Homo sapiens: one gene and its partners. The protein of the gene in region 3 purifies or fractionates together with the protein of the main gene of each other region. This does not show direct contact. Each region holds a gene or a part of one and is shown on either strand. Other genes may lie near its edges.

Region 1 (4,914 bases), on a different chromosome or scaffold from region 3:
TAAATGAGCATAGGATGTGGAGAGCCTGGGCTGGCAGAGTGGAAAGTACCCCAGATAAGTGCTTTGATGATATTTTCTGGGTCTCCAGTATGCCCACTGTGATGTTTTTGTGAATTTTCTAAATTCCTTTTTACTCTTAACATTTTTTTCTCTGCAGTATTAAAGGTTGCATCATATAAGTTTATCACTTTCGAATCAAACAGTATTCATTAAGATGGCCTCCTTCTAACTTTGAGGGGCTGCTATGGTTTGGTATTCTGGGACTTGAAGAAAAAATCTGCGTACCTTCTTTCTAGCTCTTCATAATTTTGAAGAGATACCTGTTCTTTTTGTTGTTTCTCCTCTAAGTCTTCACCTTTCCAGGGTGGAAAAATAGTCATATGAGTCAACCGTTAACCGCAGAGTTTGGAGAGGAGTGGGAGGGAAGAATTGGGGGGCGGGGGATGTGTCCCTCTGCTGAGCTCTTGATTCCAGTTCTTTACTTTGGCCTAACACTCTGGAGATTCCAAATGGTTCTGCGGAGCATGTGCTATCCATGGTCACTGCCTCTGGGCAGAGTGGGCCCTCAAGCACTCCCCCTGCCTACAAGTGCATGATGGCAGCTGAGCAGGGGGAAAGGATGCTGTAGCTGCTAGAGGTGAATGTGCACCACCGACCCTGCCTGCTCACAGGGGCCTCTCAACTTGGAGGTGCCCTGAGTCAGCTTCCCAAAGAAGCAGGCTTGCGGAGCCAGAGTGACGTGGGCCCAGCTATATGGACAGTTGATTTTAAGATGGGGGACATCTAGGCCAGGTGCAGTAATCCCAGTACTTTGAGAGGCCGAGGTGGACGGATCACTTGAGGTCAGGAGTTCAAGACCAGCCTGGCCGACATGGTGAAACCCCATCTCTACTAAAATTACAAAAATTAGCTGGGTGTGGTAGCATATGCCTGTAGTCCCAGCTACTCGGTAGGCTGAGGTAGGAGGATCACTTGAACTCAGGAGGTGGGGGTTGCAGTGAGCGGAGATCGTGCCACTGCACTCCAATCTAGGTGACAGAATGAGACTCCGTCTCAAAAATAAATAAAAAATAAAGAAATGATGGGGGACATCTATTATATCCTTCTTCAGGCCTTCCTCTGCTTTTCTTCCTTTCAGGCCAACCAGGATCTCCCAACCCGAAGACAGCAGGCAGCCCAATAATGTGATCAGACAGCCTTTGGGTCCTGATGGGTCTCAAGGCTTCAAACAGCGCAGATAAATGCAGGCAAGAAAAGATGCCGCCGTTGCTGCCGTCACCGCCTCCTGGGTCGTCCGCCACGGGTTGCACTGCCGTGGCAGACAGCTGGACTTGAGCAGAGGGAACGACCTGACTTACTTGCACTGTGATCCCCCTTGCTCCGCCCACTGTGACCTTGAACCCCATGCACTGTGACCTCCCCCCTTCTCCCCCTTCCCACTGTGATTGGCACATCGACAAGGGCTGTCCCAAGTCAATGGAAAGGGAAAGGGTGGGGGTTAGGGGAAGGTTGGGGGGACCCAGCAAGGACTCAGAGAGTCAGACAGTGCCACTTGGCCACTTGGGGTAAAGCCAGTGCCAGCAATAACAGTTTATCATGCTCATTAATTTGGGATTTCAAAACACAAATGAAAACTCACACCCACCCACCCCCAAGTGCATGTCTCCATCACTTAAAAAGTAAGTTCCATTTGAAAATATCCTTTCTTTTTTTTTTCTTCCTATTTTTGTTTGTTTATACAAATATCTGATTTGCAAGAAAAAGTGCATGGGAGGGGTTTTAGTGGTTTAATGAATTTTTAATTAAGAAAGGGTAGTTTGGTAGTCTACTTAAAAATGTTTCTGGGAAATTCACTAGAAACATTAACCAATAGGATTTTGGTGAGCTTAGCTTCTGTATTCCTACTGCCGCCCAGAAAAGGGGCAGGGCTCTGCAGCCGCCAGGACAGACGAGCACCCCATGCCTATACCTCCCTCCCCGAGCTAAGTCCCAGGGCATCTGGGCCTTGCCTGGAGACTGGGCTAGCTCTGTAGGCTCGGAGAGCCTGGGGAGGGTGCCAACCCCACCTCTAGTATTTTGGGAGATAGGGAAAGTGAACCGACTTCCCCTTCCCATACCCCTCAGGGTGGTTCCCTACCAGCCAGGCTTACTACTTCTAGAAGAAAGCAGAGTGCCAGGGAGTGAGATTGCATCCCTGGGCTTAGAAGTGACGGAGAGAAGACTTGTTTAGTATTTTGCCATCAGCACAAGGAAAACCAGGAGAGAGTCTGCCTCCAGGACTCTGAGCCTTCTGCCTCGTATGTTCAGAAGGTGGATAGGTCTTCCCACTCCAGCATGGCTTGAACTCTTAGGGGTCTGCAGTGCTCCATCTCCATTGGTGGCCCCAGCTCAGTAACTATACCTGGTACATTTCCTGTGTGCAATCAGTACCTTGAAGGCAGAACATTCTGAATAAAGTTGGAAAAAGAACAGCTTTGCTTTGCAAAGATTGATGACAGACTGGTTCCTCAGAGGCCTAGGCTACCCGTCACCCCTTTTTCCAGAGCGAGGGCCTGGAATGAAGGCAGTTTATCCTCTGTCCCTGGAGCCTGGGGTTTGCTTTGGCTCCTTGAGGTGGAAGAGACTAAGAGGGCAGCTGCCCAGAGCAGCTGTGTGTACCTGGCTCCTCTCAGGCTTCCTGATCCCTTCCGTTGCACTGCGCCTTATCCCTCAGCCAGCCAGACAGCCTCCCTGCTCCTGACCAGCAGATACGTTTCGGAGTGGTTGGTGTGGTTTTTGTGATGAGGGCAGCACGTGGTGGCCAAGGTGGCAAGCTGAGTCTCACAGGCTCACTCCCTCGTTGGTTCCCTGTGGGAATGGTAGGCCAGGCCCAGTAAGCCATGCCCCAACACGTCCTCTCCTCCGGAGGAAGGGCCAGCTGCCAGCTGAGTCAGCAGCTAGTCCATAGCACAGCCTTATAACTGTAAAGCCAGGCATTGCCCATGAGCAGAGCTGGAACCAGAGCTTCAGTCAGTAAGAGGGAGGATTACCTTCAGGAGAAGGCAAGGAAGAAAACTGGCTGCTATCTTTATAGTTCCACTGCCCTAACCAAGTGTCCACATTCTAAATGTGTAGTGTCCATCCCTTATGTAATAGTGGTTTCCCGCCCAAAGTGAGACTTTCCTTTTAATTGGAGAAGGGTATAGAGGTAGTCCAGGTGGGAACGCCAGAAGTGCTGATTGCCCAGCCATTGGGACCACCTGTTCTTGCCCCACTACCCTCTAGTGGGAGGCCAAAGTAAAGGCTGGCTGGTGGGTGTCTGTGGATTGAGGATGTGGCAGGGACTGGTCCTCCCACCTCCCTCTGGCCAAAGATGGGCTTTGCCCGCTGTGTGCCTGTCACCACCCACCAGCAGTCATGCCCTGGGCTTCCCAAATGGAGAGGTAGCAGGCAACGTTTTTAAAAAGAAAGAAAACAGGAAACTGTATTGTGTCGGGGGAGGCGGGAGGGAGATGAGGAAACGGTTTGGATTTTGTGTGTGGGAGGGTATTTTTTGGGGGTAGTTGTCTGTAACTTTCCTAAGTGCTTTTTTTCCTTTTCTTTTTTAAAGTAAGTTGCAGGCTTTGGCTTGGAAAACCCCAGGGGGATGGGGGGCAGAAACCTGAGGCTGCTGCCCCTTTATCTGCCTTCACGGTACTGTCCCCTTCCCCCAGCTCCTCCCTGACCCCATGGGCCAGGCCTCAGACCTTCCAGCTAACCGCTTCCCATGAGCCACTACTCTGATGTCAGCCTATAACCAAAGGAGCTGGGGGGTCCAGGCCTGGTGACCAACCTTTCTCAGCCCACTCAATCAGGGTGCTCCCCACCTGCAGGCAGGAGGCAACACCCTATCTGCTACCATCAGCCCCTTCCAGAGCCCATCTGCCCCGCCCAGCCCTGCCCTGCCCAGCCATACCCTGCTCTGCCCCATCTGGGGGTGCCCTGCTCAGGGATGGGCTGGCAGGGCTGTACCCAGCCTCCCTGGTAAGCAGAGACTCAAGAAACCTCTGGGGTCCTGTTTTCTGGTCGTGTGATCCCAGGGGTGCACATGGGCCCCTTGGGTGTCTGAACAGAAGGGCATGGGAGGGAGGGCTGCACCCCTGCAGTCTTACTCTGCTGGTGTAGCGGGCAGCTGCCCACTCCCACCCCACCCTGCACCGCGGGCTCCTGAGTCGGCAGATTAAGCATTTTATAAATTGTATTTTAAATACATGTTTTAAACTTGTCAGATCTTTGTCCTCATTTCAGTCCCTGCCCTCTACCTCTTGCTGTGGCCGCTTATTTAACCCTGGGGGATTTCCCTCTGCCCAGTCCCAGGGAAAGACTGTCTTTGGTAAAACACGAGGCCGGGTGGTATGTGGGTTGAGGGGAAAGGACCCACCCCTCTTGGGGCTCCCAGAGAATGAGAGCCCTGGGTCCTGGGGCTCTGTCGGGGGAGCATGCAGAGGCCACCTCCTGCTCTTCCACAGGGCCTGTCTTAGAGCCAGTGGAGAGAGAGAATGGCTGCTTTTGTGGGGCTCCCAGTCCAGAGGGGGATGTGCTCACCTGAGGAGAGGCCTAGCCCTGTGCTTTGAGAAGGCACAGAAGGTCAAGACTGCACGCAGGGGCACCTGTAGCAGAAATCCCAACCCCGCGCAGGGCTTTGAGGTGGAACCCTGCACTCTGAGAGCCCAGTGGTGGCTGGGTGACAACTTGAGGGCCTTTCTTGGCAAGAGGCACAGAGGCTGAAGTTATTGGTGTTTATTAGCTCACCAGGCCACAAAAGCAAATCCCAGCAGCAGCTCCTGCCTGGTGGCCCATCTGTCTACAGGCCTTGAGCAGCTGCCTAGAGTCAGGCCTCCAGAGGGTCAGTGGGTTCGAGCTGGCACAGAGCTGAGCCACTTTCTGCTGTCAGAG
Region 2 (4,914 bases), about 47 Mb from region 3:
TGGTTGTATTCCAGGGAAGAATAGGCCATTGAATGGGAGTTCTCCTTTGAGTCCTCAGAATATAGGCTACATGCAATCTTACCTTACACCTTGTGTACTTGGTCTAAATCCTTAAAAATCTCTTACTTCCTTTTAAAAAACTATGCACTTTCCTATCCAGACAGCTGATATGTACTGGAAAGAGTGCTGCACTCAGTGAAACGGGAGGGAGGGTATGTGGAATGAAGTCTTCCTCAATAGCAGTGCATGTCACTTCACCTCTTTAAGATGGGAATAATTTCACAGGGTTGTCAGGGACTCTAAATGTATGTGAGCATGCTTTATGCAGACATGTAAAATGTGTGGTATTTACTGTATGTCCTTTCATTTGGGTGTCAAACTCTTTTACATTTCAGCTGCTTTACTTTTGGTTGTACTGATCATGAAGGGCTATGAATTTTCTTGTGCTCATTTTCTGAAAGGTGAGTGGGCAGCTTTTATGATAAGGAGTTCAAGAGAAGAGAAAAATTGATGTTATGTTGCTTTAACCAGTTTATGTAGATCAGTGTCCTGTGTCAAAGGGCTTATACCCTGAAGGAGATTCAAATGCAGTGGAAAGAGAAGCAGAGCATATGAACTATGTGTCCTTTTCAGGTAAAGGCAGACTTCTTGATCTGTCCTTTTCCTTTTTGATGCAATAAATTATTTAAAATTTTACTATACAAAATGTTAAACCAAAAAGGGCAAAGGTGGGTTACAGTTGATATTTGTAGTTTTCATCTCCTTGGTCCTAATATTATTCTTTGTGGAGTCCTATGGAAGAACATGGGGGCTGGTGAGGAGGAGTTAATTCAGCTACTAACACCCTGTGTGACATTAACCAATTCACTTACTGTCTTCCATCTCAAATTACTTACTTGGAAAGAAGGGGTGATAATATTTGCTTTACCTATTTTGAGGTGTTCTAAAGATAAAATGAGACAAGAATGCACAGCTGCTTTGGAAAGGTTTAATTTGATATCGACAGCTAAGGCGTTGGTAATAGTGGTCATAACATCTGCAGTCTCTCTGAGCAGTATTTATTGTTTGAGGTTCTTTTGTCTGGGCCTCAGGCATTTATTGCTGATCTATTTTGAGGAGTAACTGCATTATTGTGTTCTGATTTTTGAAGCTACCATACTGTCTTAATTCATTTTCTGTTGCTTATAAGAGAATACCTGAAACTAGGTACTTTGTAAAGAAAAATTTATTTCTTAAGTTCTGGAGGCTGAGAAGTCCAAAGTTTAGTGGCTGTATCTGGTGAGAGCCTTCTTGTTGGTGGGGACTCTGCAAAATGCCCAGACAGTGCAGGGTGTCATGGCGAGGGGGCTGAGCATGCTAATGTGCTTGCTCAGGTCTCTCTTCCTCTTCTTATAAAGCCCCCAGCTCCACTCTCATGATAGCCCATTAATCTATTAACCCATTAATCCATAAATTGATTAATCCATTCCTGAAGACAGAGTCCTCTGATCCAGTCACCTCTTAAAGACTCCACCTTTCAATACTGCTACATTGGGGATTAAGTTTCCAACACATGAAATTTGGGGGACACATTCAAACCATAGCATATACTTACCTTTCCTGCCTTCTTTGGTGATGTTTTGTTCTTTTTGATGTTGAGTTCTTTGAGGGCCTCATATGTCATGGATTCTCTGTTTTCTTGGGATTATCAAGAAAGGGGGAAGAAGGGGAGCTAACAGCAAAGACACTAAATTAAAAGAGGAGGAAGGCTAACAGTTTCTAAGCAAAGTGGGGAGGGAACCACTGATACCACCCTTGTTTCTCGCCCTCCTGAGACTTTTGGCAAACTGATAGCAAGATGGGTTGGCAGTATATCCTCTAGCTTAGGCTTTGAGGATTTACTCATTTAGTGCTCTTGGCTTATGATTCTCTCTCCTTTTCACACTGCCCCTCCACTCCCTCCCCACTCCATTATTCCAGGGAGTAAGGCATGTCGAGGCTTTGGCTATGTCACTTTTTCAATGCTGGAAGATGTTCAGAGGGCCCTCAAGGAGATTACCACCTTTGAAGGTTGCAAGATCAACGTGACTGTTGCCAAGAAAAAACTGAGGAACAAGACAAAGGAAAAGGGGAAAAATGGTGAGTTTCTAGTAATTGAAGGAAGTTTTTCTCCCAGGGTGAGGAGGAGCACTATGAAAATGAAAGAGGGAGGCATGGAGGTAGCTTCTAGAACTTAAAGCTTTTTGCATTTCTTTTTGATCTCCAAAATCATCCAGTGTATTGTGATACTCATTTTAGTTCTTTGGAAAAATCTGGTATTCCTTGGTATTATTGCCACACTTAACCCTGTGGTAAATGCCATCTGTCGCCAGTAGCTTTTTTTTCTGTGATGTTCTGGCGTAGAAGTGGGTGATTTTCGAGTACTTATTCCATTACCTCTTATTTTTTAGAAAACTCAGAGTGCCCAAAGAAGGAGCCGAAGGCTAAAAAAGCCAAAGTGGCAGATAAGAAAGCCAGATTAATTATTCGGAACCTGAGCTTTAAGGTAAGTGAGAGAGAAAATGAACATTGCATGTTTTGAAGGCTTTTAGAGCCAAGATGTGATCATTAGTAGAACTCCTCACCAAGATGGTATAATTGGGCTTAATTCCTTCTGGGAATCAACCTTACCCCTGTTGAATTCAGAAAGTGGGCCTGTGTAATAAGGGCACTAAGTGTGAAGCTGCTTTCCTTTTTGGGGAAACTACTACTGAGAAAGAAAAGGTAGAAAAAGTTCTCAGACGTCTGTGTTTTTGCCTCTTAGGTACAAAGTAAAATGTCTTCTATTTAGAAACATTTGATGTCCTAGTATCAAAAATAAAAAAAAGTAAACATTCATGTTTTTCATAATTAATGAATTTAGTAGTTGATGTTTTATGTTAATTTGCTGTGATTGTGTTTCTCTTTTTCTTTCTTCACTTTTGGCTTCAGTGTTCAGAAGATGACTTGAAGACAGTATTTGCTCAATTTGGAGCTGTCCTGGAAGTAAATATCCCTAGGAAACCAGGTACTAATAAACCTTCACTTGGTGTGGATTACGTTAGTTAACATATTACCCTTGAACAAACATATATGATATATATGAAGTATTTGGCACAGTGCTTCACATCTAATGAAAACCCAAATAATGGTTTTATTCCCCTGATGATATTTTCTGTTGGATCAGAATTAGTTTTAGAAGGCGAGTTAGTTTGAGAAAGTGTTTTGCTCTCCCCAAGTCCAAGTCAGAGTATACTCAGTAAGAAGATGTAAGCAATTGCTTTGGGGAAGGGCCTGACCTGCTGGCAGAATTTGGGCCATCTTGTGGGCCTGAATTGCAGTAATTTACTTCTTAGTATTCTGGCTACCTCCTGCTGCCTCTCACTTCTTTCTTTGTGCATTTGCACACAGATGGGAAGATGCGCGGTTTTGGTTTTGTTCAGTTCAAAAACCTCCTAGAAGCAGGTAAAGCTCTCAAAGGCATGAACATGAAAGAGATAAAAGGTAAGCTTTCTATACCCATATCATTGACCCAGATATTTCTGGTGTTTTGGTGAATTAGTGTAGTAACCCACTTTCTGCATTTTCAAAAGATGTTTGCATTATTAAGAGTCTCATTGCTAATACGGTAGCTATTTAGGTGAAATACTCTAGAACTTGATCTTGGGGTTAAACTTGAAAGAACCCTTGCCAGTATTCTTTCTTTTATCTGGTGAGAGTGTCCTTTTAAATCCCTAGTGAAAAATGTCCCTGAGATAATTGCTGATAGATGCAGGTTGGTATCTAGATTCCTCCTTGGTTATATCACTGTTCAGCATCTGTGGGCTATTTATTAAACTGACTGTGATTTATATATTGACTTATCAAGTACTGTGCCTAAAGAAGTTATTGCCGGCCAGGTGCGGTGGCTCACACCTGTAATCCTAGCACTTTGGGAGGCCGAGGAGGCAGGTGGATCACCTGAGGTCAGGAGTTCAAGACCAGCCTGGTCAACATGGCGAAACCCCGTCTCTACTGAAAATACAAAAATTAGCCAGGTGTGGTGGTGCATGCTTGTAATCCCAGCTACTCAAGAGGCTGAGGCAGGAGAATCGCTTGAACCTGGAGGCGGAGGTTGCAGTGAACTGAGATGGCACCACTGCACTCCAGCCTGGGCGACAGAGCGAGACTGTGTCTCAAAAAAAAAAAAAAGAAGTTATTGCCGTAGAGATGTCCTAGCTTCCAGGTAGGGTGCAGATGATTCCAGAATGCCTGTTTTGATTCCTGATAGTCTAACTGGAAACATAGTTCTAATTCTTTATTTTTTTACTCCATCTTATCCCAGGTGTGGTGGCTATGTAGAAAGGCAAAATTTCTGTTCATTGATAAAAAGGTTAAGGGTTAAAAGGAGTAGGCAGTGACTAGGAGCTTTATTTTAAGACCAGCATTCCCTGAATTGGCAGTTTCTTTGTCTCCACTGGTTCCATTATTGTCTGTGATGACTAGGGGTCATTTACAGAGGTAGGGTTTTTAAAAGGAGAGCCTTTCTGATGCCACTTTTCTGCTTGACAGGCCGGACAGTGGCTGTGGATTGGGCCGTGGCAAAGGATAAATATAAAGATACACAGTCTGTTTCTGCTATAGGTAAGATGTGGTAGTGTTGGGTGAGTAGGGGCGTTGTATAACCTGGGTGAGAGTATTGAAACAACTCCTGTGTTCATGATAAAAGTGTAAGAAAAAGGCTGGGTGCAGTGGCTCTTGCCTGTAATTCCAGCACTTTGGGTGGATTGCTTGCAGTCAGGAGTTTGAGACCAGCCTGGCCAACATGCAAAACCCCATCTCTACTAAAAATACAAAAATTAGCTGGGCTTGGTGGTGGGCGCCTGTCATCCCACCTGCTTGGGAGGCTGAGGCAGGTTCTTGAACCTGGGAGGCAGA
Region 3 (4,914 bases):
CAGCCCCAAGCAAGAGTTTATTTAACATTTGATGGTAAGAGAGTTGATAAACACTCTGGGAAAAATGTTATTTTAAGTTTTGTTATCTTCCTTATCCAGATTCAGAAATTAAGAGTATAAATATTACTGGATATTAATTTTAAAAATATTTACTGGGCTGCGTTTTGGAGGACAATAGCTATTTTAAATGATTGGTTAATAGACAAAGATCCTCTGTTGGATTTGAGGTATTTATGAAAATGCTTATAATATATGCTGCTTTTTGTAAAATAATTCTTCTGTGCTTGCCTGTGTACTCACAGAGGAGATGGGCACGAGCTCAAAGCCTAGCATCTTTGATCTTACTGTTCACCTGGTAATGTTAAGAAATTGCCCCTTTGTGCTAATCCTCAGCAGCAGAGAGAGCTATGCAGGTTCAATTACTAAAAAATTCTCCCAATTAATTTTTTGGGCATTAGTCTCAAAACTGGTTACTCCGTGTGTTGTTCTAATGGTGTTTCTTCTTTTTCCACAAGGATTTCCTGAGATTGGCATAGTCCCCTAATTAATTGAAAAGGACCTAAAAGAATAATTGGAAATATGCTTTTGATGGTTGTTGTATACAAATGTTCTCAGAAGCTTAGGGAAATGGGTGTGATTTCAGATTTTCACATACATAAAAGGTGCAAGGTCTTCTGAGGGAATGGTTTGCATGAGCTTTAATGTATATAGTTCAAAGGACTTACAGATGAATGAATTTGGTTAGTCAAGTAACCCATACTAATTGGACAGATGGAGCAAGACATGGATGAGGAACACCATCCTGCCAATCAAGGTCATTTATAATTTTATTACTTCTTTCAACTCTGCATAAACTTTAGTGTCATTGCAAGTACTTTTTCTTTCATTTGATAAACAATATATTCTCAGACCTTTCTATAGCAGAGTGTCTCTGAAACTTTGTCTCAAATTCCTTTTTTTTTTTTTTTTTTTGAGACAGTGTCTCACGCTGTCACCAGGTTGGAGTGCAGTGACACGATCTCGGCTCACTGCAGTCTCCACCTCCCAGGTTCAAGCCATTCTCCTTCCTCAGCCTACCCAGTAGCTGGGATTACAGGTGCGTGCCACCACACCGAGCTAATTTTTGTATTTTTAGTAGAGACGGAGTTTCACCATGTTGGCCAGGATGGTCTCGATCTCCTGACCTTGTGATCTGCCCGCCTCCGCCTCCCGAGGTGAGCCACCACGCCTGGCCTCAAATTTCAAATAGCAGAATGACTGACACTTGCCAGTCAAATGGCTGTCCTTTTTTTCTTTTTAAGTCACCAGTGCTTTCCCCAAGGTTGTCATAAGCACCGAAGGAGCCATATTTGGAACTTAGAATGTGTGAGCTTCTAATTGCTTCCTTAGCCTCCATGCAAGGCATTTCCCCTTAAAACCCATAGCTATGCAGTTAAGTTGTGAAGAATGGAAAAACAGACCCTTTGAGGTATCCTTTTTAGCCCCTTAATTACTAAAGCATCTTACAGACTACCCACACTTTTCCTCCCAAGTTAGAACTATGAAATACGTTTTCAAATAAAAGAGAAAGGGCATTAAGAAGTAGTGCAATTTCCCCTCTATTTTCTATATTTCTCCTAGTATATATAGAGATGGAGTGACCTAATAGATTAGATGTCTCTACCTGCTTTCTTTTCCATTACATGAAAATTAATCCAAACTAATGTAAATATCAACAAAAAGTGTGTTACTAGAGATAATGAACCAATTCTGTATTTGAAAAAGCAATTGCAATTCATATTTTACAGAAGGAAATTACATAGTATAATCTTTTAGAACCAGACTTCAGAACTGTGTAAGACAGTGACAGCTATGCTATACAGTGACTAGAAGTAATGATGGGATTTAAAATAATATATGCCTAATATTTTAAATGCACTCAAACTTAAAACAGATTCTTGCAGAATAAGACTTGCCTTGATTTGTAACTTATGTAGAATATGACATGAGTTGTTGATCTCAAAGTTCTATAATTCCTGATATTTTGTTCTTCTCAGGTGTATTACTGGTACTCTTAGGAAGTGAGAGAAAAACAGAGCAAATAATCAGAGAGATAGAAAATCACTTGTTTTGAATACTGTTTAAAAGAGATGTATCAACAGTGAGAATACATCTAATAAAATTGCACGATTGGTAACTCAATAATTTTAAACATTCCTACAATGAACTACATAGACAAGTTATAGGGAAAGTATCAGGCGAAAACAGTTGTCAAAATGTACAAATTTTAAACCTTGGTTCAATACAGTTTTCTTAGGAGATTTCACAGTGTACCTGCTTGAAATGCCTGTTCAAATTTATTATTATTTAAAGTTTCTCATTAGTCAAATGATGACTCATTGACTATTGTACCAAGTAGGTTTTTAAGTTTCCTCCAAAGTAGTTTATTCTCAACATCAAAATATAGAGCTTTGTATGGGGTTAATGTATTTAAGAGTATATATTTAAATACATGTGGCATATACTTCTAGTTCGTATTTCTAAAGTTCTATTACTGTTTTCCAATAAAAAATCAGCAACTGAAAGGTGTTTTGCAGAAATTCAGATAGTTTCAAGTTGTATTAGACAGAGGTCATTTGCATTACTTGTTTTATATCTCTAAGTACCTTTAGATTCTCTCGTAATTACTTTACCTACTGGCTCTTTTGTCTTGAATTCTTCTCCATCACTGTAACTTGGTCCTCTGCCTGTCTCTCTCTGGGTGGAACTTGAGAAGAAACCACTCAGTCTTGTGTTACTTCCGGTGCAATAAGCATCATAGGCAATTTCAAGGTGTGTAGAGCAATGAGTCTCTTCTCCCATTCATGTTCCATCCCTTTTTCTTGTGGTGAAATAATGGAGTAATAACATTTGTAAAACAGTGATTTACAGGTTTGCCTTCCCTGTTGATCTAGGGCAAGGTCAACCAGATGGTCATCAGTCCTGTGGGAGAATGTACTTCAGATGTTATTAATTAGTTACATTTGTGCTACTTAAATCTTCTATGTTGAGACCTGTGACTTCTAATATTTTCTTTTGTAATTGGTCTAACTCTTATTTTATGCCAAATAGCTTTGCAAGTGAATATAAGGTTCACACAAATGCTTTTAGTATAAGTTTTTCCTTAGTTAATATTGGCCAATCTTGCAGCCCATGGCTGAATTTACATTTGCATATGCATGACAGTGGTTTAAAAACAGAAAACTGAGTGTGAGTTTTGAATTGGAAATAGGTATTTTATGACTAAGCACTAGACTTGCATAGGATTACCTGTTTTTTCTTTTCCTTTTTTTTGAGACAGAGTCTCGCTCTGCCTCCCAGGCTGGAGTGCAATGGTGAGATCTTGGCTCACTGCAACCTCCACCTCCTGGGTTCAAGCAATTGTCCTGCCTCAGCCTCCCGAGTAGCTGGGATTACAGGTGTGCGACACCATGCCCAGCTAATTTTTGTACTTTTAGTAGAGACAGGGTTTCACCACGTTGGCCCGGCTGGTCTCGAACTCCTGACTTCAGGTGATCCGCCTGTCTCAGCCTCCCAAATTGTTGACATTACAGGCGTGAGCCACTGCGCCTGGCCCTGTTTTATTTATTTACTTTGTGATTCATTTTCCCTTTTGTGTGTGCTGAATTTTTAGTAATAAAGCTGCCAAAGTCTCCAGGTCTTTGATAGTATGTAAATGAAAGACTATGGAATTTTATAAAACATCTTTTAAAATCACCCTCAACAAATAAAAGAATCCCTGTGAACTAATGAACTAAGCCCCAAAGCTGATGAATTGTTATTGGACAATAAACTGAAAATAATAAATTGCCTCTTTATGAGCTCTGGTAGCATTAGCATTACAAGGCACGTTTGTTGAAATAGTTTTTGTTGTGGTTGCCCAAGAAATGAAAATAAAAGCAGTTGTTCTTGATTTCTCCGTTAATCTTGGAAGATGCTTACTCTGGGTGTATTGAATCTTCTCAGGTTTGTGTTACTGAGAAGTATTTAGTTCTCAGGTGTGTGTTATGGCATTTTCTTTTAAGTCTCCTTATGATGGTTTCAATTAAATGTCACTGAAATATCTTGAAGCACACATGAGTGTTTTAGTAAACCCAAACTCAAGGGGTGCTCTGTGAATAAAAAGTTCCTTCTACTCTCCCCCTTGTGAGAGTTTAATTGAACTCAGCAAAGGATTGATGAATTCACTTGTGAGTTGGACATTACCTGAAACATGAGTCTAGAATAGAGTAACACTAAATTTGTAAAGCAGCAAGGTAAAAACTGTTATAAAATACAATTGCAATGGAAGATGAGAAGAATTGCTAAGAAATGTAGCCTCGTATGTCTATTTTCCCCTGTAATATGTATTGATATAGGGCTCTGGTAATCAAAATAAAATAATATTTCTAGTAGACTTGAATTGGAGGGAGGAAATTTTATTTCAGGTATTGCAAAGAACATCTCTTGAAAATTTTAGGATAAAAGGTGTTACATTGATATGCTGTGGATTTCTCCTAGAGAAAAAATTTTAGAAAAATGTGTAAGCCTATATTTTCCTGTTTAAAAAAGTAATTACTGTTCCAGGTGAGTTTCATCAGATTATAATAAGCTTGATTCTGTTGCCAATAAATGATATTCTGTGTTAAGCCATTCAGAGTTACAAGGTTCCTACAATTGGGAGCAAAGAAGGAATGCTTTAGTGTTCTGAAGTTAGAAGAGTGAGCTTGAGTGTTTTGTTAATCGGTCATACGAACACAGCGGTTCCATTAAAAAAAAATGTGGTCGAGCACGGGGGCTCACGCCTGTAATCCTAGCACTTTGGGAGGCCAAGGCGGGTGGATCACGAGGTCAGGAGATCAAGATCATGCTGGCTATCGTGGTGATACCCCGTCTCTACTAAAAATACAAAAAATT
Region 4 (5,519 bases), on a different chromosome or scaffold from region 3:
TCAGCCGGGTGTGGTGGTGGGCGCCTGTAATCCCAGCTACTCGGGAGGCTGAGGCAGGAGAATGGCGTGAACCCAGGCGCCACTGCACTCCAGCCTGGGCGACAGAGTGAGACTCTGTCTCAAAAAAGAAAAAAAAGAAAAAAGAAAAGAAAGAAAAGGCAGGTTCCTCCTGACAGGTGACCTGCTCCACATCGGCTTCTTCTGCCCTAAGAGGAGCCCTGAAGTTGGTCACGATAGGAATATTCCTGCTTCTTATTCATTCGTTTTAAAAATATTCACAGAAAACATTTATTTTAGAGAGTTAGAAAGACACAAAAGCTGAAAGATAAAACTTACCCAAAGCTCATTTTATCATTTTTTTTTTAATTGAGACAGAATCTTGCCCTGTCACCCAGGCTGGAGTGCAATGGCACGATCTTGGCTCACTGCAACCTCTGCCTCCAGGTTTCAAGCAATTCTCCTGCCTTGGTAGGAGAATCCCTCCTTAGTAGCTGGGATTACAGGTGTGCACCACTGCGCCCGGCTAATTTTTTTTTTTTCTTTTTTGAGATGGAGTCTTGCCCTGTCACCCAGGCTGGAAGGCAGTGGCACTATCTCAGCTCACTACAACCTCCACCTCCCTGGTTCAAGAATTCCTCTGCCTCAGCCTCCCGAGTAGCTGGGATTACAGGCCCATGCCACCATGCCCGGCTAATTTTTTTATATTTTTAGTAGAGACAGGGTTTCACCATGTTGGCCAGGCTGGTGTTGAACTCCTGACCTCAGATGATCCACCTGCCTCAGCCTCCCAAAGTGCTGGGATTACAGGCGTGAGTCACCGCGCCCAGCGCATCATCATTTTTAACAATTTGCTGTATTTGTACCTGGTCCTTTACTCAAATGCCTGTTTTAAAAAAAGTCCTAGACCTATAATCACACATTAGATTTTAAAATATGCCCTTTCAGCTGTCTAACCTACATCTACACAGAATTAGTACGTGTATTTTTTTTTTAAGACAGGGTTTGCTCTGTTGCCCAGGATGGAGTACAGTGGCACAATCACAGCTCACTTCAGTCTCAACCGCCCAGGCTCAAGCAATCCCCCTGCCTCAGCCTCCCAAATAGCTGAGACTATAAGCTACGCAAGCATTTTGACAAGATACAGGAGGGTTGGCACAGAGATTTAAAGAAGCCAAGTTCTAACACAGGACAGCACAGAGACACCAATACACGGGACAAAATATACCCAGGCTGGGAGGATGAGCTGCCACTGATTGGGGATGTGGTGTGTAACAAACTGAGTACTAGGGGCCGGGCACAGTGGCTCACGCCTGTAATCCCAGCACTTTGAGAGGCCAAGGCAGGGGAATCACAAGGTCAGGAGTTTGTGACCATCCTGACCAACATGGTGAAACCCCGTCTCTACTAAAGATACAAAAAATCAGCTGGGTATGATGGTGCGTGCCTATAATCCCAGCTACTTCGGAGGCTGAGGCAGGGCAATCGCTTGAACCCGAGAGGCAGAGTTTGCAGTGAGTCAAGACTGCGCCATTGCACTCCAGCCTGGGTGACAGGGCAAGACTCCGTCTCAAACAAAAAACAAATCGAGTACTCTACAGAGGCCGGCGAGATACAGGAAGGGCAAGTGAGCCAGGTCAAACACAAAATAAACAAACAACTCAGATGCCCACAGCAGAGTCCCTTGGCAGGGCAGGCTGGGAACAGGAGAGGCACCCATGGCGCAGCTCACAGCATTCCATCAGTCCTCTCTTGTTCAGCCCGTAGGCTTCTAAGAGCTACCTGAGTCCTCCTGTTATGTGGATGAAGTCAGTATGCAGGGGCCTCACCACCCACGCCAAGGTCAGCTTAGGTTTCTATCAGTGCAGTTAGGCCCAGGTTCATCCTGGTTCTGCCTGTAATTCATGGACAACCTTCAAGTCAAGTAGGTTCAACTCTGAGCCTCAGTTTCCCCACTTGTCAAGGAAGCTAGTTGGATCTTACTTCTGAGACTTCTCCTAGTTCTAAAACTATAGGACCCTTCATTGGTAGAGAAATGACTGGTAATGTGGCAGAAGGTCTTGGCACAGCCTAGGTGAAGGCAGTATACTCACAGATTCATCCCAGGACAGGATCCCACGTCCTAAGCAGCCGAGCCCTGCATCAGACCCTCAGCAGGCCACAATGGGAGGCCCGGGGAGGCCAGCATCCTCAAAAAACATCCCCACTGCACCCACCGCTGTCCACCCACCACTCAGAGTCCTGGGGAAGAAGGGAGAGTGCAGAGGCCCTTTTAGGACGCTGTGGGGGGGGGGCAGAGATATGTCCCCACCCTCCCACGTCCTCCAGTACAAAGTGCACAGATGTGCTGCCATCTATTGCTAAGGTCATGGCGCAATTTAAAAAGCTTTCCCCATGGCCGGGCGCGGTGGCTCACGCCTGTAATCCCAGCACTTTGGGAGGCCGAGGCGGGCGGATCACGAGGTCAGGAGATCGAGACCATCCTGGCTAACACGGTGAAACCCCGTCTCTACTAAAAAATACAAAAAAAATTAGTCGAGGGCAGTGGCGGGCGCCTGTAGTCCCAGCTACTCGGGAGGCTGAGGGACGAGAATGGCGTGAACCCGGGAGGCAAAGCTTGCAGTGAGCCGAAATAGCGCCACTGCACTCCAGCCTGGGCGACAGAGCGAGACTCCGCCTCAAAAACAAAACAAAACAAAACAAAACAAAACAAAAAAACAGCTTTCCCCAATTAAAAAACCTTCCCCTAGACCTCCACAGAAGGGGCCGCGGCCTCTCTCGGCAGGCATACCTGGGTCAGCGTGGCATCGAACAGCTTGCAGGCTTCGTTGCTTGTGGTGGAGAGCGGGAGCCTCGCATCCTTCCAGGCCTACAGACGGCAAGAAGGGAATAGCAGTGCCTTCTCTCCAGGAGCCCTTCAAACTTCAACACACACACGTCTCCTGGCCCCTCTGACCTCCACCTTCCTCATCTGTAAAATGGGCTCAGGCTCCCAGTCCTGGGCCGGTTCCAAGGAGCCCCTTACCTTTGCGGGCTTCCCTGCGTCCCCAGCCATGCCCAGTGAGCTACGTTTTTTAGGAGGTCTTGGGGTCTCCCGAGTACCCTGACAGGCGTCCCTTATTTCCCTCGGTGGGGACTCTACAAGAAGGGCCTCGGGTCCCTTCCAGGCGTTGCCGCGGACGCGCCCGTGCGCCCAGGGCTCACCCCACGCCCCGCGCCCGGGCCATGTCTCCCGTTATTCCGCCAGCACCGGGCCACCCCCAGGACCCGGGGCCCGAGGGGGACCTGGTTGGGGGCAGCCTCCGTGTACCTGGCAGTCGCGCAGAGGCGAGGCTGCGGCCATGTTGCGCCGGGTCGGAGTCCACCGCGAGCTCTGGGCACCCGGGCCTTCCTGGGAGTGGGCGGGGCGGTCGCGGAAAGGGGCGGGGCGGGGCGGCCGCGCTCTCCCGCTCGCTCACTGGTGGGTTTCGGACAGACTGGCCCTGGTCCAGGATCCGGGCCCGCCCCAGAGGCCCGACCGGACAACTCTGCAACGCGACGGGTCCCTTGGGAGCAGGGAGCTCCGGGACAGCGGTCACTTTCAAGTTTATGTCGTTGCGGTCGGCAGCTACCCGCGCGCGCACGGCACACACTCACTTGGCGTTCGGGGCCGGCTTCACTGGGTCGTCCCGCCGCCTCCATCCTCCCTTCTCAAGGATTTGCAGCGGAAAAATCGCTCTGTCTCCTGCAGTAGCGGCTTCTCCCTCTGGACTGGCCCGGTCTGGCCCGGCCTGAACTCTGCCATCAGCCACACACCAGCCCCAGTCCAATGGGCTCCCCTAGTTTAATTTGCCCCCGCCCCAGGGTGCACGAATCAAGGGCGTAGAACCAAGTGCACGGGCAGATCTGGCCTTTATTTAAAATGCTATTTTGTTCATCATGGACTTTTTGCATTAGTTTTGATTTTTGAAATATTGCACTGAAGTATTATTTGTTTTATGTGAGAGCTGTAAAGATAAAACTCTTAGAAGAAAACAGAAGTAAATCTTCATGGCCTTGGATTTAGCAATGGATTCTTAGATGTAACACCAAAAGGACAAGCAACAACAACAAAATAGATAAGTTGGACTTCGTCAAAATTAAAAACTTTTCTGAATCAAAGGACACTACTCAGGAAACTGAAAAGATTAACACAATGGGAAAAAACATTTGTAAATCATATATTGGGTAAGAGTCTAGAATCCAGAATACATAAAGAAATCTTGGCCGGGCACAGCAGCTCATGTCTGTAATCCCAGCCCTTTGGGAGGCTGAGTCAGGTGGATCACCTGAGGTCAGGAGTTCAAGACCAGCCTGGCCAACATGGTGAAACCTTATCTCTATTAAAAGTACAAAAATAGCCAGGCGTGGTGGTGCATGCCTGTAATCCCAACTACTTGGGTGGCTGAGGCAGGAGAATCGCTTGAACCCGGGAAGTGGAGGTTGGAGTAAGCCAAGATTGTGCCACTGCACTCCAACCTGGGCAACAGAGCCAGACTCTGTCTCAAAAAAAAAGAATTCTTACAACTCAACAGCGAAATGACAAACAGCCCAAATTTAAAGTGGGCAAAGAATTTGAGGTGACAGTTCTCCAAAGAAGACACACCTTTCCTACAGCGTTTTCAAGGTTCATTCATACTGAAGGAAGAGGCAGACACAAAAGGTAACACTTGTATTAGTGCATTTACATGCATGTCCAGAATACGCAAACATAGAGACAGAAAGAAGATTGGTGGTGACCAGGGACTGAGGGGATAGGGATGATAAGTCACTGAAGCCTTGAACTCCTGGCTCCAGCAATCCTCCCACCTCAGCCTCCCATAAATGGTTACTTTTATGTGAACTTTACCTCAATAAAAGAGAATTTGTCTTGATTATTGAGTTTTTGGTGCCCCTCCACCCTTAAATTTTGCACTTGAGCTGAGTACTAATATGGACTAATACAGTAAATTGGTACCATTAGAGTGGGGTGTTGCCAAAAATATACCTGAAAATGTGGAAGCAACTTTGGAACTGGGTAACAGGCAGAGGTTGGAACAGTTTGGAGGGCTCAGAAGACAGGAGTATGTGGGAAATTTTGGAACTTCCCAGATACTTGTTGAATGGCTTTGCCCAAAATGCTGATAGTGATATGGACAATAAGGTACAGGCTGAGGTGGTCTCAGATGGGGATGAGGAACTGGAGCAAAGGTGATGCTTGTTATGTTTTAGCAAAGAGACTGGCAGCATTTTGCCCCTGCCCTAGAGATTTGTGGGACTTTGAACTTGAAAGAGATGATTTAGGGTATCTGGCAGAAGAAATTTCTAAGCAGCAAAGCATTCAAGAAGTGACTTGGATGCTGTTAAAAGCATTCGGTTTTAAAAGGGAAACAGAGCATAAAAGTTTGAAAAATTTGCAGACCGAAAATGTGATAGAAAATTCCATTTTCTGAGGAGAATTCAAACCAGCTGCAGAAATTTGTATAAATAACAAGCAGCCAAATGTTAATCCCCAAGACAATGGG

Evidence for each region. Proteins that work in one complex are often made in the same cells at the same time.
Region 1: the proteins of SEMA3C (region 3) and SZRD1 purify together in Homo sapiens (co-immunoprecipitation; one large-scale study listed by IntAct). This does not show direct contact.
Region 2: the proteins of SEMA3C (region 3) and RBM28 purify together in Homo sapiens (affinity purification with mass spectrometry; one large-scale study listed by BioGRID and IntAct). This does not show direct contact.
Region 4: the proteins of SEMA3C (region 3) and TTC38 purify together in Homo sapiens (affinity purification with mass spectrometry; one large-scale study listed by BioGRID and IntAct). This does not show direct contact.

The regions. Positions count from the first base shown.
Region 1 is NC_000001.11:16,393,900-16,398,813, forward strand, and holds the end of SZRD1 (SUZ RNA-binding domain-containing), read left to right. Parts: intron 1-1,138; coding exon 1,139-1,241; 3' UTR 1,242-4,246; downstream 4,247-4,914. Other genes in the region: SPATA21 (spermatogenesis-associated protein 21), read right to left, coding at 4,866-4,914.
Region 2 is NC_000007.14:128,336,837-128,341,750, reverse strand, and holds part of RBM28 (RNA-binding protein 28), read left to right. Parts: intron 1-1,959; coding exon 1,960-2,118; intron 2,119-2,429; coding exon 2,430-2,524; intron 2,525-2,949; coding exon 2,950-3,025; intron 3,026-3,408; coding exon 3,409-3,501; intron 3,502-4,548; coding exon 4,549-4,620; intron 4,621-4,914. UniProt on the Homo sapiens protein: Nucleolar component of the spliceosomal ribonucleoprotein complexes.
Region 3 is NC_000007.14:80,911,799-80,916,712, reverse strand, and holds part of SEMA3C (semaphorin-3C isoform 2 precursor), read left to right. Parts: coding exon 1-34; intron 35-4,914. UniProt on the Homo sapiens protein: Binds to plexin family members and plays an important role in the regulation of developmental processes. Required for normal cardiovascular development during embryogenesis.
Region 4 is NC_000022.11:46,265,861-46,271,379, reverse strand, and holds the start of TTC38 (tetratricopeptide repeat protein 38), read right to left. Parts: upstream 3,373-5,519; 5' UTR 3,341-3,372; coding exon 3,308-3,340; intron 2,867-3,307; coding exon 2,789-2,866; intron 2,239-2,788; exon of another isoform or gene 2,091-2,238; intron 1-2,090.